Linked DNA regions of Homo sapiens: region 2 is linked to region 1. The links come from fine-mapping of genetic effects on gene expression. Tissue or cell type: whole blood. Region 1 holds a variant in brackets; the other region holds the start of a gene. All regions are shown on one strand. Distances are from middle to middle.

Region 1 (10,690 bases):
ATTCCTGACCTTAAGTGATCTGCCCGCCTCGGCCTCCCGAAGTGTTGGGATTACAGGCGTGAGCCACAGCACCTGGCCTCATACTTTTCTTTTTCAAAATTTTCTTGATTATTCTCATGTATCTTCTCTATCAATTTTAAAGCAGCTAATTATGATTTGTATTATTTAGTCACCAGGTATTTGGTTTGCCTTTTTTTTCTTGTATTTTAATTAGACTACCCTGACTAATTTGGTTAGAACTGATACCTTTACAAGACTGAATCCATCAGTAAATTATGTCCTTCAGTAAAGTATTATAGTTTTATTCATGTAGGTATTATACACTGAAGTTTACTTCTAGACATTTCATGTTTGTGTTCTAGTGAATTAGCTCATATTTTTCCATTACTTTTCTAACTGGCTATTGTCATATCCAGGAAAGCTGTTTTACAAATGTTTGTTGTTTCTAGCCACCTTACCAGTTCAAACAGTTTTTCAGTGGTAGTAGATAACCTCATTTATGAGAATATCAAGTTTTATTAAATTCTTTTACAACATTTTTATCTATCATTTTTTGTTTTGAGACAGTTTCACTGTGTCACCCAGGCTGGAGTGCAGTGATGTGATCACAGCTCATAGCAGCCTCGACTCCTCAGGCTCAGGTGATCCTCCCACTTCAGCCTTCCAAGTAGCTGGGACTACAGGTGCACACCACCATGACTGGCTAATTTTTTGTATTTTTAGTAGAGACAGGGTTTCACCATGTTGCCCAGGCTGGTCTTGAACTCCTAGACTCAAGTGATATGCCTGCCTTGGCCTCCCAAAGTGCTGGGATTACAAGATGAGCCACCATGCCTGGGCTTTATCTCTTACTTCTTTTCCTTGCCTTCTGGTATTGTTAGAATCCAGAATGCTGTTGGGTGGCACAGGTGTTCAGCATGCTTCCTTCCCTTGATCCTGACTTTATGATTTTATTATTATTTTGAGACAGAGTCTAGCTCTGTCACCCGGGCTGGAGTGCAGTGGCCCCATCTCAGCTCACTGCAACCTCCGCCCTCCACTTCCCAGGTTCAAGTGATTCTCCTGCCTCAGCCTCCCGGGTAGCTGGGACTACAGGTGCATGCCACCACGCCCAGCTAATTTTTTGTATTTTTAGTAGAGATGAGGTTTCACCATATTAGCCAGGATGGTCTCCATCTCCTGACCTTGTGATCCGCCCGCCTCGGCCTCCCAAAGTGCTGGGATTACAGGTGTGAGCCACCACACCTGGCCCGATCCTCACTTTAAAAGAAATAATTATAATATTTCAGTTAGGAATGGTGTTTGCTATAGTTTTTTGATACTCTATCAAGTTAACTAAATGTTCTTCTATTTCATCTTTTTTTCATTTTATTTTTTATGATATTAAAAACATTTTTTTGAGGTAGGGTTTTGCTCTGTCATCCAGGCTGGAGGACAGTGGCACAATCACGGCTCACTGCAACCTCCACCTCCAGAGCTCAAGCAATCTTCCCACCTCAGCCTCCCAAGCAGCTGGGACCACAGGCATGCACCACCACACCTGGCTAATTTTTTTTTTTTCTAGAGATGGGGTTTTGCCATGTTACCCAGGCTAGTCTTGAACTCAGACCTTCCCTTGAATGACAGAGCTCAATGTTAGCATGTCTGTAAGCAGGCCACCCTTTAGAGTGCCTGGATGGGTAATTGGAAGAGAATGTACAGGGCGACCAAACAAAGGAAGGTTTTACTTTGGTTGGTGGGTACTTCAGTATATTTTAAGTAGAGTGGGGCTTCCTTAAAAAAACTCTGGGCTAATAATGAAATTTTGGAATTACTTTTAACCCTACTTTCTTTCTCATCTCAATGCCTGTCCTTGGTATCTCTCCTTCACTCTTAGTACTTACAGATTTCATACCTTTGTGAGCTGGAGTATTTCATTTTCACAACTACTCCTGCAAGAGGAAAAACAACGCCTAGCCTAACTATTCCTTAAGTAGTCTTTTAATTTAATTACCTGGCTGTGTAATTTTATACTTCTGCCTGCTCACCTGGGCTTCATTCACAAGAACAGTTCTCATCTTGGTAGCTGATCTCTCTTATGACTACTTTGGAGGCTATACTTTCTGTATTCAGGCATTTTCATCAATCCAGTTTCATTTGCTTTCTCATTTTCAGAAAGGTATGAAAATTTCTCATCTCCTGATGGCATACTTTTCTTCTTTCATTGCTTTGATGGATTTATTATATTCTCCTATTTTTCTGTCACTTTAATGGGATTTTGAGGAGGAGGGAATACAGATATGTATTTTAACATCCTGAACCAGAAGTCTTGTTGCTGTTTATGCATACAAGAATTACTTAGTATAAAAAATAAGACGAATAGTTGAATTTTTCTAATTAAAATACAGATTATGCATGTTTGAGTAGATTATAAAAAAGAATGATTTTACATTGAGAGACATTAAATTCTTTATACATAAAAAAATTAATGAGACTAAATTTCACTGAGTATAGCAACAATAACCATTTATTTAGTGCCTTCAATGAAGGCACTGTACAGACCTACCTTGGAGGTATGGCAGGTTCAGTTCCAGACCACCTCAACAAAACAAATGTCGCAATAAAGCAAACCACAAATTTATTTCCCAGTGCATATAAAAGTTGTTCACATTACACTGAAGTCTACTGTACAACAGCATTATGTCTAAAAAATGCACATAAATTTTAAAATACCTTATTACTAAAAATTGCTAACAATTATGTGAACCTTCAGCAAGTGGTAATCTTTTTGCTGGTTGAGGGTTTTGCCTGGATATTGATGGCTGGTGACTGAACAGAGTGGTGGCTGCTGAAGGTTGAGTGGCTGTGGTAAAAAAGAGGATAATAATGAAGTTTGCTCCATTGACTCTTCCTTTCAAGAAAGATTTCTCTGTAGCATGTGATGCTGTCTGACAACTTTCTTTGCTCATCCATTAGAAGCAACTCCTCATCCCTTCAAGTTTTATTATTTGATTGCAGCAATTAAGTCACATCCTCAAGGCTCCACTTCTAATTCTAGGGGTTTTTGCTATTTTCACCATATCTGCATAATTCCTCCACTGAAGTCCTGAACCCCTCAAAATCATCCTTGAGAACTGGAATCTATTTCTTCCAAACTCCAGTTAATGTTGCCATTTTGATCTCCTCCTGTGAATTATGAATGCCATTAATTGCATCTAGAAGAGAATCCTTTCCAGAAGGTTTTCAATTTATTTTGCCCAGATCCATCACAGGAATCACCACCTATTATGGCTATAACTTTATGAAATGTATTTCTTAAATACTAAGTTAAAAGTAAAAGCGACTCCTTGATCCATGGGCTGCAGAATGAATACTAGCATGAAAACAATAAATCTCCTTGACATTTCTTTTTTCATCATTCAACTTGACTCCTTGACATTTCATTTTTTTGTTTTTTTTTTTTTTGAGATGGGGGTATAATTCTGTCAGCCAGGCTGGAGTACAGACAGTCATCTCAGCCCAATGCAACCTCCGCTTCCCAGATTCAAGCGATTCTCCCACCTCCGCTTCCTGAGTAGCTGGGACCACAGGCATGTGCCACCACACCCAGCTAATTTTTTGTAGAGACAGGGTTTTGCCATGTTGCCCAGACTGGTCTCAAATTTCTGAGCTCAAGGGATCCGCCTGCCTCAGCCTTCCAAAGCGTTGGGATTACACGCGTGAGCCACTGCACCTGGCAACTGCTTTTCTATTGGAGCTCTTGCATGACTAGGTGCATTGTCAATGAGCAGTAATATTTTGAAATAAATATATTTTTTCTGAGCAGTAGGTCTCAACAATGGGTTTAAACATTCAGTAAACCATGTTGTAAACAGATGTGCTGTCATCCAGGTTTTTTGTTCCATTTACAGAGCACAGGCAGAGAGTAGCTTTAGCAAATTCTAGGATTTTCAGAATGGTAGATGAGCATTGGCTTAATTTAACATCACCAGCTACACTACCCCCTAACAAGAGAGTCAGCCTGTCCTTTGAAGCCTGGACGCCGGACACTGACTTTTCCTCTCTCTCCATCAAAGTCCTAGATGGGCATCTTCTTCCAATACAGGGCTGTTTGATCTGCATTGAAAATCTGTTGTTTAGTATAGCCACCTTCATCAGTGACCTTACATAGGTCTCGGGGATAATTAGCTACATCTTCTATATTAGCACTTGCTGCTTCATCCTGCACTTTTATGTTATAGAGACAGCTTCTTTCTTTAAACCTCATGAGCCAACCTCTGCTGGCTTCAAACTTTTCTTCTGCAGCTTCCTCAGCTTTCTCAGCCTTCATAAAACTGAAGAGAGTTAGTTAGGGCCTTGCTCTGGATTAGGCTTTAGCTTAAGGGAATATTGTGGCTGATGTGATCTATCCAGACCACTCAAACTTTCTCCTTTTTGGCAATAACACTGTTTTGCTGTCTTATCACTCATGTCACTTTTAATTTCCTTCAAGAACTTTCCCTTTGCATTCACAACTTGGCTGTTTGGTGCAGGAGACCTCACTTTCGGCCTTTCTTGGCTTTTGACATACCTTCCTCATTAAGCTTAATCATTTCTAGCTTTTGATTTAAAGTGAAAAATGTGTGACTCGTCCTTTCATGTGAACACTTTAGAAGCCACTGTAGGGTTATTAATTGGCCTAATTTCAATATTGTTGTGTCTCAAGGAATAAGAAGGCCTGAGGAGAGGGAGAGAGTCAGGAGAATGGCCATTTGGTGGACAGTCAGAAATTACACAACATTTATCGATGAAGTTTACCATCTTATATGGGAACAGTTCATGGTGTCTCAAAACTATTACAATAATAACATCAAGGATCATGGATCACAAGTCACCATAACAGATATAATAACAAAAAAGTTTGAAATATTGCAAGAATTACCAAAATGTGACACAGAGACATGAAGTAAGCACACGCTGTTGGAAAATGATACCAATTGACTTGCTCAACACAGGTTTGCCACAAACTTTCAATTTGTAAAAAGCATGACATTTGTGTAGAGCAGTAAAGCAAGTGCAATAAAATGAGACCTGCCTACGCTAGGCTTTAAAAATATTATTTATTTTAATCTTTAGGTGGGATCTTTCTGATATTAGTGATTGTGTTCTCTTTTTCTAGATCAGTCTAGCCAGCAGTGTGTCAATTTTGTTCTTTTTAAAGAATCAGCTTTTGGTTTTATTGATATTCTTATGCTTTCCATCTTTTCAGTTTTACTGATTTTTGCTCCATGTTTATTACTTCCTTCTTCCTACTTTGAGCTTACTTTGTTCTTTTTTTCTAGTTTCTTAAGGCAGAACCATAAATCATTAATTTTAAATCACTTCTAACTACAGCACTTAAAGCTATGAGTTAACCTCTAAGCACCTCTTAGTTGTATCCCACAAATTTTGATATATTTTTGTTCATTCCACTCAAACATTATTCTAATTTCCTTTATGATTTTATCTTTGATTCAAATTATTTGAAAGTGTGTTCAGGTTTTTCTTGATCTCTTACTTATTCTTAGTGATTTGTAATTGAATTCTATTGTGGTCAGAAAATATGCTTGATTTAAAAGAAACCTTATTGGGGCTTAATTTTCATGTCATAACATTCACTCATATTAAGTCTACAATTCAATAATCTTTGTAGTAAATTTACCAACTTTTAGAACGTTTCTAATTTTAGAAAATCTTTACCACCCCAGTAAGATACCTCATGCCCATTTACAGTTAATCTCCATTGCCTTCCTAACACCAGGCAACCACTAATATACTGTGTCTACAGATTTGCCTTTTCTGGACATTTCATATCAATGGATTCATACAATATTTGGTCTTTTAAAATCTGGCTTAATCCACTTAAAATAAACATGTATTTGAGGTTCACCAATTTTTAAGGCATGTATCAGTATTTCGTTCTTTTGTATTGCTCAATTATATTCCACTGTATAACACATTTTACCTATTTTCCAGTTGACGGAAATTTGGGTTGTTTCCACTTTTTGGCTTTTATGAACAATGTTATGATTATTCACATAAAATCTTTGTGTAGTCTATGTTTTCATTTCTCTTGGGTAGATTATTTAGAGTGGAACTGCTGGGTCATATGTTAAATTAATGCTTAGCTTTTAAAGAAGCTGCCAAATTGTTTTCCAAAGTGGCTGTACCATTTTACATTCCCAACCAAAAAAGTATGAGGGTTCCCATTTCTCCACATCCCCTCCACTTGTCATCATCTTTTGGATTATAGCCATTCCTCTAGTGAGTGTGAAATGGGATTTCACTGTGGCTCCAAATGCAATTAATGCCTAATAACTAATTATGTTGAACATGTTTCATGTGCTTTTCGTCCATTAATATCTCTTCTTTGGTGAAATATCTATTTAGATCTATTTTTAACTTGGGTTGTTTATCTTATCATTGAGCTGTGTGAGTTGTTTGTATATTATGGATTCAAGTCCTTTACTAAATACAGAATTTGCGTATCTTTTCCCCAGTCTGTGGCTTTTCATTTTCTTACATTTTCATTTTTGGATCACAAAAGTCTTCAATTTTGATAATGCCTAACTTATCAATTTTTCCTTTTATAGACTGTTTCTGGTATCATACCTAAGAATTCTTGGCTTAATTCAAGGTCTTAAAAGATTTTCTTCCTATATTTTCTTCCAATTTTTTTTTTTTTTTTTTTTTTTGAGACGGAGTTTTGCTCTTGTTGCTGAAGCTGGCGTGCAATGGCGCGATCTTGGCTCACCGCAATCTCCGCCTCCGGGCTTCAAGCGATTCTCCTACCTCAGCCTCCCAAGTAGCTGGGATTACAGGCATGCACCACCATGCCTGGCTAATCTTTCGTATTTTTAGTAGAAACGGGGGTTTCACCATGTTAGCCAGGCTAGTCTTAAACTCCTGACCTCAGGGGATCTGCCCGCCTCAGCCTCCCAAAGTTCTCAGATTACAGGCATGAGCCACCACGCCCCGCCCACAATTTTTTTTTTTTTGAGACCGTGTCTCACTCTGTCGCCTAGGCCAGAGTGCAGTGGCGCAATCTCAGCTCACCGCAAGCTCCGCCTCCCGGGGTCACGCCATTTCCCTGCCTCAGCCTCCCGAGTAGCTGGGACTACAGGCGCCTGGCACCGTGCCCGGCTAATTTTTTGTATTTTTAGTAGACACGGGGTTTCACTGTGTTAGCCAGGATGGTCTAGATCTCCTGACCTCGTGATTCGCCTGCCTTGGCCTCCCAAAGTGTTGGGATTACAGGCGTGAGCCACCGCCAGCCCACAATTTTTATAGTGTTAGCTCTTACATTTAGACATCTTATCCTTTTTGTGTTAATGCTTGTATATAAGTTGAGTGTCTACATTCACCTACAGTCATCCCTCAGTATCCACAGGGGGTTGGTATTTGCA[C/T]ATAACCTATGCACATCCTCCTGTACAAGTTAAATCATCTCTAGGTTACTTATAATACCTAATACAATGTAAATGCTATGTAAATAGTTCTTATACTGTATTATTTGTATTTATGTAATATTTTCAATCTGTGGTTGGTTGAATCCATGGAAGCAGAACTTGCAGATACAGAAGTCTGACTGTATTTGCATGCAGATATCCAATTATCTCAGCACCATTTTTTGACAAAAACTATCATTTCCCCATTGAATTGCCTTGGCATCTTTATTGAAATTTAAATAACCATAAACATAAGAGTTTATTTCTGGAGTCTAAATTTTATTCTCTCATCTATTCATCTCTGTTTATGCTAGCAGCACAGTCTTGATAGCTGTAGCTTTGTAGTAAATTTTGAAATTGGGAAGTGTGAGTCCTCCAACTTTTTCTTTTTCCAAATTGTTTTGGCTATGCTGGGTCCTTCTATTTTCTATATTAATTTTAGGATCAGCTTGTCAAATTCTACAAAATCCTGCTAGAATTTTGATAGGTGCAATTTTGATATACATTTAGATGCCAATGTAGGGAGGGTTGCAGCTTAACAATACCGAGTCTTCAATTCCATGAACATGGCATGTCTCTCCATTTATTTAAATCTCTTTTAAAATCCCTCAGTAATGTTCTGTAACTCTTTACAATGTACTTTGATTTGGATCCTTTTCAATTGACTGAGGTTTTTTAAATAGCCAAACATAGTTTATCTTGATGACTGTACTGTATACACTTGAAAATAGTGTATTCTGTAGTTGTTGAGTGTATATTCTATAAATGTCAATTATATAAAAGTAGCTGATTGTGTTGCTGAGATTTGTCTTGACCAATTTTTGTTACCTCTTCTATCAACTGAGCGTTTTTAAATTTCCTACTCAGATTTAGAACTCCCCTTAATTCTACCAATTGTGTCATTGTTTTGAGGCTCTGTGATTTAGTGAATATACATGGATAATTATTGTGTCTTCCTGATGAACTGTTTCTTATAATCAATATTTTTCAGAGACAAAGTCTTGCTATGCTGCCCTGGTTGGCCTAGAACTCCTGGACTCAAGCAATCCAGACCTCCCACCTCAACCTCCTGAGTAGCTGGAACTACAGGAACACACCATAACATCCAACTCCTCATTATTATGAGATCAGTCTGTTGCTCAGGTTGGAGTGCAGTGGCACAATCATAGCTCACTACAGCCTTGAACTTCTGGGTTCAAGCAACACACCTGCCTTAGCCTCCTGAGTAGCTAGGACTACATAGGTATGTGCCACCATGGCCAGCTAGTTAAAATTAAAAAAAAAAAAAAATTGTACAGACAGGGTCTTGCTATGTTGCCCACGCTGGTTTCAAACTCCTGGCTTCAAGCAATCCTCCTGGCTTGGCCTTCCAGAGAGCTGGGATTACAAGCATGAGCCACCATGCCTAGCCAAAGTCTGCCTTTTAATTGAGGTGTTTAGATTGTTATCATTTAATTATTCATATGGTTAGATCTAGTCTATTTCTCTGTTCCCCCTTTCTTGGCCTCTTTAAGATTTCCTGTTCTCTGTAAGACTATTTGAATATTTTTATTGGCTTTTTGGCTACATCTCACTGTATTTTTTAACTCAGTGCTCCAGGGATTACAATATACATATCTAATCATTTAAAGTCTACTTGGAGTTAGTTTTATATCATTTCATATTTAATAATATAACTATAATGAAGGTCTGTGGGGTAAGTTCCTTTACTACTGATGTTCACTACTGTCAAACATCTATGCATATTTAAAATTCCATGAGATAATGTTACTATTTTTGTTTTGGACAATTATAGGTTTTTCTTTTCTTTTTTTTTCAGTTTAGGAGGCAAAAAAGTAATCTTTTCTAATAACCAGCTATTTACCATTTATTTTGCATTTATTTTATTCCTGAAGATGCAGGTTTCTCTTTGGTATCATTTTTCTTCAGTTTAAATAACTTCCTTCAGCATATCTCATAGAGCAATCCCATTGCTCATGAATTATTTTATCTGAAAATGTCTTTATTTCACCTTCACCCATGAAGAATATTTTCACTGGATATAAAATTCTGAGTTGACAGGTCTTTTCTTCCAATGCGTTAAAGGCACCATTCCACTAAATTCTTCCAAGGATTGTGATGAAAAGTGCATGGGTACATTCAAATCTTTATGGCTCCGTAGGTAATGAATAATTTTTTAACAGCTTTCAGTGTATTTTAATTTTTTTTTAGCAGCCGTTTTCTTGTTAGCAGGTGAATATCTCTGATTTTTAGTTTACTTTTGATGTGTGCAAGTGTGGTTTTGAGTTTAATTCTGTCTGTAATTTGCTGAGTCTCTTGTATCTATAAATCTGTATCTTTTACCAATTTTGGAGGTTTCAGCCATTATTTTTTCAAATCTTCAAATATCTTTTCTAACAGAATCTCTCTTCAGTTCTTCTGGAACTCCAGTTATCCATATTTCATTTGTTCCTTTTGATATTGTCACACAAGTCCCTGAGGCTGTTTATTTTTATAAAAATCTTTTCTCTCTTCTTCTAATTTCTATTACTGTATCTTTAAGTTTACTTTTCATTGTCATCTCCATTCTGTTATTTAACCCATTTGATCAGTTTACATTGGATTATATTTCAGTTATAAAATTTGTTTTAATACATTCTATTTCTTGCTAGAATTTATTTTAATTTATTTCAAATGTGTTTTCCTTTACCTAAAGGAACCAGTTATGGAAGCTGCTTTAAAGTTTTTCCCTGATACTTCCAACATCTGAGTCATTCTGGAGTTGTCTTTTCCTTGAGAACTGGTCACATTTTCCTGGTCCTTTATACCAAGTAATTTTGGATTTTATCTTGGACACTGAATATTATGTTATGTAGCCTGGGTACTGTTATAATACTTCCGAGATTGTTGATGCTCTTGTTTCAGCAGGCAAACACTTGAGTTATATTCAGACTGTAATTTGTGTTTTACTTTTTGTAGGCAGTGAACTTGCAGTTCAGTTACTTAAGCCTTTTCTATTCCAGTTTGCATCTGTCCCATAACTGTGCAGGTCAAGGGGTAGGGTGAAACTTGTATGGGATTCCCCTCAAACTTTCTGCACAAAGAGGCCTCTTTCTCAGGCTTCTCTGTTCAGGAAATATGGGGTTTCTCTTGAAGTTTATCTGCCAGAGGTGCCATGCCATGATGTGACTGCCCTTGGGGCAAAGATGCATGAGGAAAGGAAATGATAAACTCATTTCTGTGTTGGTCTCTCCCCAGAAACTGCCTGC
Region 2 (8,000 bases), 150 kb before region 1:
GCCCAGGCTGGTCTCGAACTCTTAAACTCAAGCGATCCTCCCACCTCAGCCTCCCAAAGCATTGGGATTACAGCATAAGCCACCATGTCCAGCCCCACCCTGGAGTTTTATAGTTCACCAGAATGATACTCTTTCTTCTCTCCATTTCTATTTTTTTTCTTGTTAGATTTCTCTTGCAGAGAGGGGTCCATAATAGTGGGGTCTCTTTGCAGAAAAATTTAGAAACAGCTGATAAGAGCATTAGAGGGAACCAAATCCAACTCATCAAATTTACCTAATTTGATGAATGTGGAAACTCAGGCCTAAAGAAGTCATTTTGCAGTATGTTACTAGTGGTCAAACCAGGCTGGATAGGCCCACTTCCACTGGACCTTTCTTATGAAGCATCTGAGGCAAAATGCCAACATTCAGTCTTCTTCTATATCAATAGCTTTCACCTTGGTAGAAGTCAGCTGATAAGCCTCAGGTTTCAAATACGCTGAATTAAAATTATTCTATTTTTTATTACCCACCTACCAGGATGGCTAAAATTAAAAACATTGGCTGGGGGTGGGGGTGGTGCTGGAAAAAAAAAATTAGGCTGGGTGCTGTGGCTCACGCCTGGGAGGCTGCAGCAGGAGGATCACTTGAGCCCAGGAGTTTGAGACCATTTGAGCCTAGAAGTTTGAGACCAGCATGGCCAACATGGTGAAACCCCATCTCTACTAAAAATAAAAAAATTAGCCAGGTGTGGTGGTGCACACCTATAATCCCAGCTACTTGGGAGGCTGAGGTAGGAGAATCATTTGAACTGCGGAGGTAGAAGTTGCAGTGAGCTGAGATCGCGCCAATGCACTCCAGCCTGGGCAACAGAGCAAGACTCTTTCTCAAAAAATAAAATAAAATAAAATAAAATAAAATTAAATTAAAAAGTCTGAAAATACTAGGGATATAGAGCAACTAGAACTTTCAAACATTGCCGTGGAATGTAAATTGACCAAAACACTTTGTAAAACTGCTTAGCACACCTACTAAAGCTAATCATACACCTGTGTAACCTAGCAATTCCCTTCATAGGTATTTATTCCAAGATAATTAAGAGCATTTATCCCCAAAAGACAGGTACACAAATATTCAGAGCAGCTTTATTTGTAATAGCTAAAAACTAGAAACAACACAAATATCCATCGATAGGAGAATGGATAAATAATTTGTGGTATACTCATATAGTCAACTACTACAGAGCAAAACCAAAAACTAAAAGAATGAATTACTGATTCACTCAGCAACATGGATAAATCTCATACACATTATGTTGATGAAAGAAACCAAGGCCCGGTGCGGTGGCTCACATCTGTAATCCCAGCACTTTGGGAGGCTGAAGCGGGTGGATCATGAGGTCAGGAGTTCAAGACTAGCCTGGCCAAGATGGTGAAACCCCGTATCTACTAAAATACAAAAATTAGGGGCCAGGCACGGTGGCTCATGCCTGTAATCCCAGCACTTTGGGAGGCTGAGGCAGGCAGATCACGAGGTCAGGAGTTAGAGACCATCCTGACCAACATGGTGAAACCCCGTCTCTACTAAAAATACAAAAATTAGCTGGGCGTGATGGCGGACAGCTGTAATCCCAGCTACTTGGGAGGCTGAGGCAGGAGAATCGCTTGAATTGGGAGGCCGAGGTTGCAGTGAGCCGAGACTGCACCACTGCACTCCATCCTGGGTGACAGAGCAAGACTCTGTCTCAAAAAAAAAAAAAAGAAAAAAGAAAAAGAAACCAGACACTGTAGGTTCCATTTATATAAAATTCAAGAACAGAACAGACAAAAAAGACTCTATGGTGATATATCAGGATAGTAATTACTGAGAGGCAAAGATATTTTAACATGAAATAACCTCTGGGATACTGGAAATATTCCAGATCTTGATCTAGGTGATAATTACATGGATATATACATATAGAAAAATTCAGCTTAAACTGAATATTTAAGATTTACCCATGTTCTATATGTAAACTACATCTCAATGTTTTTAAAAAGTGCCCCATATTGCATCTGCATTGTAGTAAACACAATACAATAAAATACCTTTATCATAAAAAATATTTTATCGTTAAAATTCAAGACTGTCAACGTCACTGCTTTCATCAACTCATTCTTGGCAGATTGCATTGGTCTCCCATTGCTTTGCCTACTACCAATTCCTCCTCCTCTCTGACAGGTCTTTCTTGCTGAGCACATTTGATTTTACTAATCTCCAGGTTAACAAACTTCCTTGGCTCCCATGTGTCTGTGGGATACAGTATAGGCACCTCAGTGAAGCAAACAAAGACTTTCCTAATGCACCCTCTGCCTTTCCAGATTCAGGGCGACCTCTCTCCTCTATGCCTTTAATCCCTAGCAGCAGAACCTCCTTCCACAACCCTCTCTCTTTTTTAAATTTTAAGACAGGGCCTCACACTGTCACCCAAGCTGGAGTGCAGTGGCGCGATCTCGCCTCCTGGGCTTAAGCAATTCTCCCACCCTAGCCTCCCGAGTAGCTCGGACCCCAGGGGCGCGCCAACCACGCCCTGCTAACTGTTGTATTTTTTGTAGAGACAGTGTATTGCCATTTTTCCCAGGCTGGTCTCAAACTCCTGGGCTCCAGCGATCCTCCCGCCTCGTCCTCCCAAAGTGCTGGGATTACACGCGTGAGACGCTGCACCTGGTCCACATCTTTTCACCTGTGAACGAAGCAAGCGCCCTGTGCTTCCACGGCCTACCTGGTTCTTACTCAGTCAAATTCCTACTCGCATTTCACCATCCCGTTCTCAAGGGTTGGCTCTCAAATGTCTGACAATGGTTCCCACGGCCCTCAGTTCCTATCATCATAAACTCTTTGTGAGCTCAGCACATTCATTATATGAAAACTCTCTATATTTTATTCTGTCCACTCTTGAGCTAAATGTTTCCAGAGAGCTAGCAGAATTTGTTTTCAGCGTTAGATCCCTCTGCTAAACAAACGGGTGCTAATAGAATCACTTTGCTAAATAAATGGGAGCTAACAGGATTGAATATGAGTTCCATTTTTGTCCCAGAGTTCTAGTTTTCATATAAATATTTCTTCCCATTAAATTCTTCTCTGCAGAAGAACTTGGGGATGAAACCCGATACAGACAAGACAGCTTAAGTAAGACATAAATGAGTGTTGTCTCTAGTTTGAGTTTCCTATTTTTTTGAGACAGTCTCCTGCACTGTCCAATAGAATAGCCACCAAAAATATGGATATTTAAGTTTAAATTAGAAGTGAATAAAGTTGGCCGGGCGCGGTGTCTCACGCCTATAATCTCAGCACTTTGGGAGGCCAAGGCGGGCGGATCACCTGAGGTCGGGAGTTCGAGACCAGCCTGACCAACATGGAGAAACCTCGTCTCTACTAAAAATACAAAATTAGCCGGTGGCGCATGCCTGTAATCCCAGCTACTCGGGAGGCTGAGGCAGGAGAATCACTTGAACCCGGGAGACAGAGGTTGCGGTGAGCCGAGATCGCGCCATTGCACTCCAGCCTGGGCAACAAGAGAGAAACTCCGTCTCAAAACAAAACAACAACAACAACAAAAAAAAAACAGAAGTGAGTAAAATTGAAAATTCGGTTATTCAGTTCAAGTACTCAAAAGCCTCATGTGGCTAGTGGCTACCGTATTAAAGAGCGCAATGTGCAATATTTCCATCATCACCTACAGTTTTATTGGGCAGCGCTGCCCTGGTCTTTATTTTCCCTTGTTGGAACGCTCTTCCACGCTGCTCCCACACCATGTCCCCTATCACCATTATTATCCTCATTTCATCTGTAATTACTTGCATCTTTTAATAGGCTGGGAGTTCTAAGACAGAAGGGACTGTGTCTCACTTCTGTTGTTCCAGTGTTTAGCTTTGAAACCCAGGCACACAGTAGGTACTCAGTAAACAGAATGCGAAGGACCGTCCAGAGACACCAGTCCCAAACCCTTTTCCAGGCTGATCGGTCCCCCATAAGTCTCCAGCCTTTTTTATTTTAAAGCTTATTTTAAAGCATGTCCCTGAAGACGAGTGGGGAGAGCAGACCACCCGCTGATTCCAATTCCCTAGGCGGCCGCGGCGAGCTGCGGCGTCTCTGTGCCCCGGCCTGCCCCTATCCCGCCTGCGCCCCGCCCCCGCCCGGCTCGCGCCAAGGCCCGCTGCTGGCGCCGCCGCCATCCCGGCGCGTCACTGCGCAGGCGCGGCCCGCGAGCGTGGGGTATCTCGAGGTGCCGGGTTGCAGGCGCTCAGGAGCGCTAGGGTTTGAGGCCTGCTTTCTGCTCGCGCCAGCAGAGCACTACCTGAGGCAGCGAGGCGCAGCGAGCCTAGCCTCCCCGCGCCCTGGGCAGTGTGGCCATGGAGAATCAGGTGTTGACGCCGCATGTCTACTGGGCTCAGCGACACCGCGAGCTATATCTGCGCGTGGAGCTGAGTGACGTACAGGTAAAGGCCGGGTCGGGCGGCGGGAAGCGCGCGGGATCGCGGCTCCGGGTACCCGCCAGGACCCCTGCCCCCTTTGTCCGCGTGCGCGCCGGAGAGCCTGCAGTGCGCCAACAAGGTCGGCGACGCGGTGCGCTTACGGCGTGCTGGCGCTTTTCGAGGCTCATCTGCAGATCTCGGGCCGGGGGCACAACCCCCCGAGGGCTGCAGGAACCTTCGGGTCCCCAGAGAGCTCGGCCTGGGCCTCTCAGGCTACCCCGGGCCTCTTCTTTGTTCGCAGTCGGCGGCCTTCATGGAGCCCAGGCCCGGCCCTGGCTGCCTGGCCGTCGGGGTTCGAGTTGGCTGGGGCCCTTCGAGATGTGGGATGAGCTTGTTGGGTCAGGGGTGCGGTTGTGACAGCGGCTTGCTGGGCCGTAGCTGAATGCCTGCCGCTGGCCTGAGAGGTCCAGCCAGGCCCCTCGGACGTTACTGAGGCTGGGCGCTGCCGGAGGTGGGGGAGGGGGAGGGGTGGGGGGCCACACCCACCTCGCAACCGTTCAGTGATGGAAATCATTCTCATTACTTTTAATTTTAAAATTCACAAGAGCTGGAGGAAGTGATTTCCCCCTCTGTTCTGAAGGTTGTGAGCTCAGGTTTGCTGAGTTGCACAGAGAACTTAAAAAGTTCTTAAGTTACATTAAGCATTTCTGTTTGAGCTCCTTGGCCCTTAATGTAAGCAAGCTGAAGGCACGTAGTAGTGGAGACTCCAGGACCTGTGTATCCTCATGTCTCTGTCCAAACTAAAGATTCTGGGCTTTGAGAAACTGGAATTTTCATTCTGGAAGGTTCTTTCTTTCTTTCTTTCTTTTTTTTTCTTTTCTTTTTTTTGAGACGGTGTTTCGCTCTTGTCGCCCAGGCTGGAGTGCAATGGCGCGATCTCGGCTCACCGCAACCTCTGCCTCCCGGGTTCAAGGGATTCTCCTGCCTCAGCCTCCCGAGTAGCTGGGATTATAGACGCGTGCCACCATGCCCGGCTAATTTTTGTATTTTTAGTAGCGACAGGGTTTCACCATGTTGGCCAGGCTGGTCTCGAACTTCTGACCTCAGGTGATCCACCCGTCTCGGCCTCCCAAAGTGCTGGGATTACAGGCATGAGCCACCGCGCCCAGCCTCTGGAAGGTTCTTTCTACAGTCATTCTTATTGGAAACTTCTCCTTAACATCTATGGCACTTTGTCATCTCTTTCACTCCATTTAACTCTCTCTGCCTCTGAACAGGCATCTGCTTGGATCACCCGTGGATCCGGTAAAATGTAGGTGCTTTCTGAGTGTCGACTTGAATTTATTGAATTTAATATAATCTTTGCTTCTGGAATATAAACAGTTTTCCTGTTGAAAGATGAAGACAGTAGTGGCCAGAATGCCTTTAAATAGGCTATGACATTGCATGGTGTGTCGTTTAATGTGTTCATCCAGACTGAGGCTATACTTTTGGGTCAGAGTATGAGTAAATGTTCTGTGCTGTCTCCCTCTACTGCTCCACGGTGGTTTAATAGAATAGGAAAAAACAAACAAAATCTTTTGTAGATGGGGATCAAAGTCCCCGTCTAGAGAGGGTTCTTCCAGCAGTCAATAAAAAAGTACGGAACAGGCCAGGTGCTGTGGCTCACGCCTGTAATGCCAACACTTTGGGAGGCCGAGGCGGGAGGATCACCTGAGGTCAGGAGTTCGACACCAGCCTGACCAACATGGAGAAACCCCATCTCTACTAAAAATACAAAATTAGCCGGGCATGGTGGTGCATGCGTGTAATTCACTATGTTGGCTACTCGGGAGGCTGAGGCAGGAGAATTGCTTGAACCCGGGAGGCGGAGGTTGCGGTGAGCTGAGATGGTGCCATTGCACTCCAGCCTGGGCAACAAGAGTGAAACTCTGTCTCAAAAAAAAAAAAAAAAAAGTAACCATCTAAAAATTTTTGGGGAAAAATAAATCATTTTTCCCCCTTATTGAGTTTTTGTTTTCTCTGGGGTTTCACATCTGTAGTTTTGAGGCACCCATATTTCAACTACCATTAGTTTAAAAGCATGATGTTACCCTCATAAAAGAGTGTTTACATGTGTTAGCAATCCTCTAACACATGTAAGGTAGTACAGATTTACAAAGGTGAGTCAGACCCAGCTTTTCAAGGGCATGCTATCTAGAAGGAGGCGTATCATATACAAACAAAAAGTTTTGTGTAGGAGTATGTTTATTGGTAGAATTGGAGTTGGATGTTGAACCAGGTATCTGGTGTTAAAGGAATTTGTTACCTTTCTTTCATTTAGTTAGTGATGACTTCCAGAAATGAGAATTATTTTTGTCAAACTAAGACTGGGAGAATGTTCCAGAAAGAGAAAGGCATAGACTTTTAGACACTTGTAATCTCTGACTTAAGCCGTGTCAATGCCCAAAGGCCACCAATAACACACCCGTAGTTAAACAAGTTGGGTTTATTACTCATTGCATTGAGAGAGCATACTCCATGGGGAACCCTGGGGTGTTTCATTAGGAGGGTGTTAGAACTGATTATAGGATTTGGGTGTTGGTGATTAGGGGAGGGGAGGGTTAAGGAGGTTGGGTTTCACTTCAGATAAGATCCTGTAAGAAAATATGGGAGTTTCGTGGTTGGGTATCTGAATAAATCTTACCTGTAGGGCAGGGAGACTAGTATAAGAACAAAACTGTAATTGCTACAGGAGTAGCAGTCACTCAATTTGGCCAAAGGGTGTTTGGTATTTCGTGAGTGGCATAGCCACTATGTATTTGTCTGTGCTTATAACAAAATTGTGAAATGGCCTTTGTCTCATTTTATGAGGATTTCAGAGTAACCTTGTCTGAGGTTGGTATTCTGTGAGATTGTTTATGTCCCATAGGAGAATAACATGGCCTGGCTGTGAGTGCTATGCCTGCTTCTGGAGTGTCACGGGTTGCCTTTTTTTTTTCTTTCTCAACTGATTGCTCTATGCAGGGCCTGTTGAAACCAGTGGTTTTACATGTGCAGATTTGTTATTTAAAAAAAAAAAAAAGAAAGAAAAGCAGCCGGGTGTGGTGGCTCATGCCTGTAATCCCAGCACTATGGGAGGCCGAGACGGGCGGATCATGAGGTCAGGAGATCGAGACCATCCTGGCTAACACGGTGAAACCTCGTCTCTACTAAAAATACAAAAAAATTAGCCAGGCGTGGTGGCGGGCGCCTATAGTCCCAGCTACCAGGAGGCTGAGGCAGGAGAATGGCGTGAACCCGGGAGGTGGAGCTTGCAGTGAGCCGAGACTGCGCCACTGCACTCCAGCCTGGGGGACAGAGCGAGACTCCGTCTCAAAAAAAAAAAAAAAGAAAAGAAACCAGTGGTTCTGGCTCTGGATGAAGCACTTCATTTATTTGTTCAGTAAAAATCGTTTATGGAGTACCTACTCTTGTCTATCATTAAGCTAGGTGTGGGGTTCTTGGACAGCACTTTAACACTCTCTGCTTTCTATAGCATGACCCACAGCTTATGTGTAAGTGTGAGTTTTAAAGTGTTAAGTTCCA

What was found. PIP is the estimated chance that this variant, and not a neighbour inherited with it, causes the effect.
Region 2: HACD3 starts here. The variant in region 1 is fine-mapped to the expression of HACD3 in whole blood (TOPMed, PIP above 0.99).

What each region holds. Positions count from the first base shown.
Region 1 is chr15:65,678,150-65,688,839 of GRCh38, forward strand. The region is part of intron 23 of DENND4A (DENN domain containing 4A); the gene reads right to left. Among named protein-coding and RNA genes, the nearest start is that of SNORD13E, 13 kb to the right of the region's middle. The variant C/T (reference allele first, on the strand shown) is at 7,404.
Region 2 is chr15:65,526,262-65,534,261 of GRCh38, forward strand. It overlaps HACD3 (3-hydroxyacyl-CoA dehydratase 3), which reads left to right and starts at 4,202. Exons shown (of 11, transcript NM_016395.4): 1 at 4,202-4,457. The coding sequence starts at 4,371. RefSeq lists an enhancer at 2,526-3,026 and a silencer at 4,065-4,284.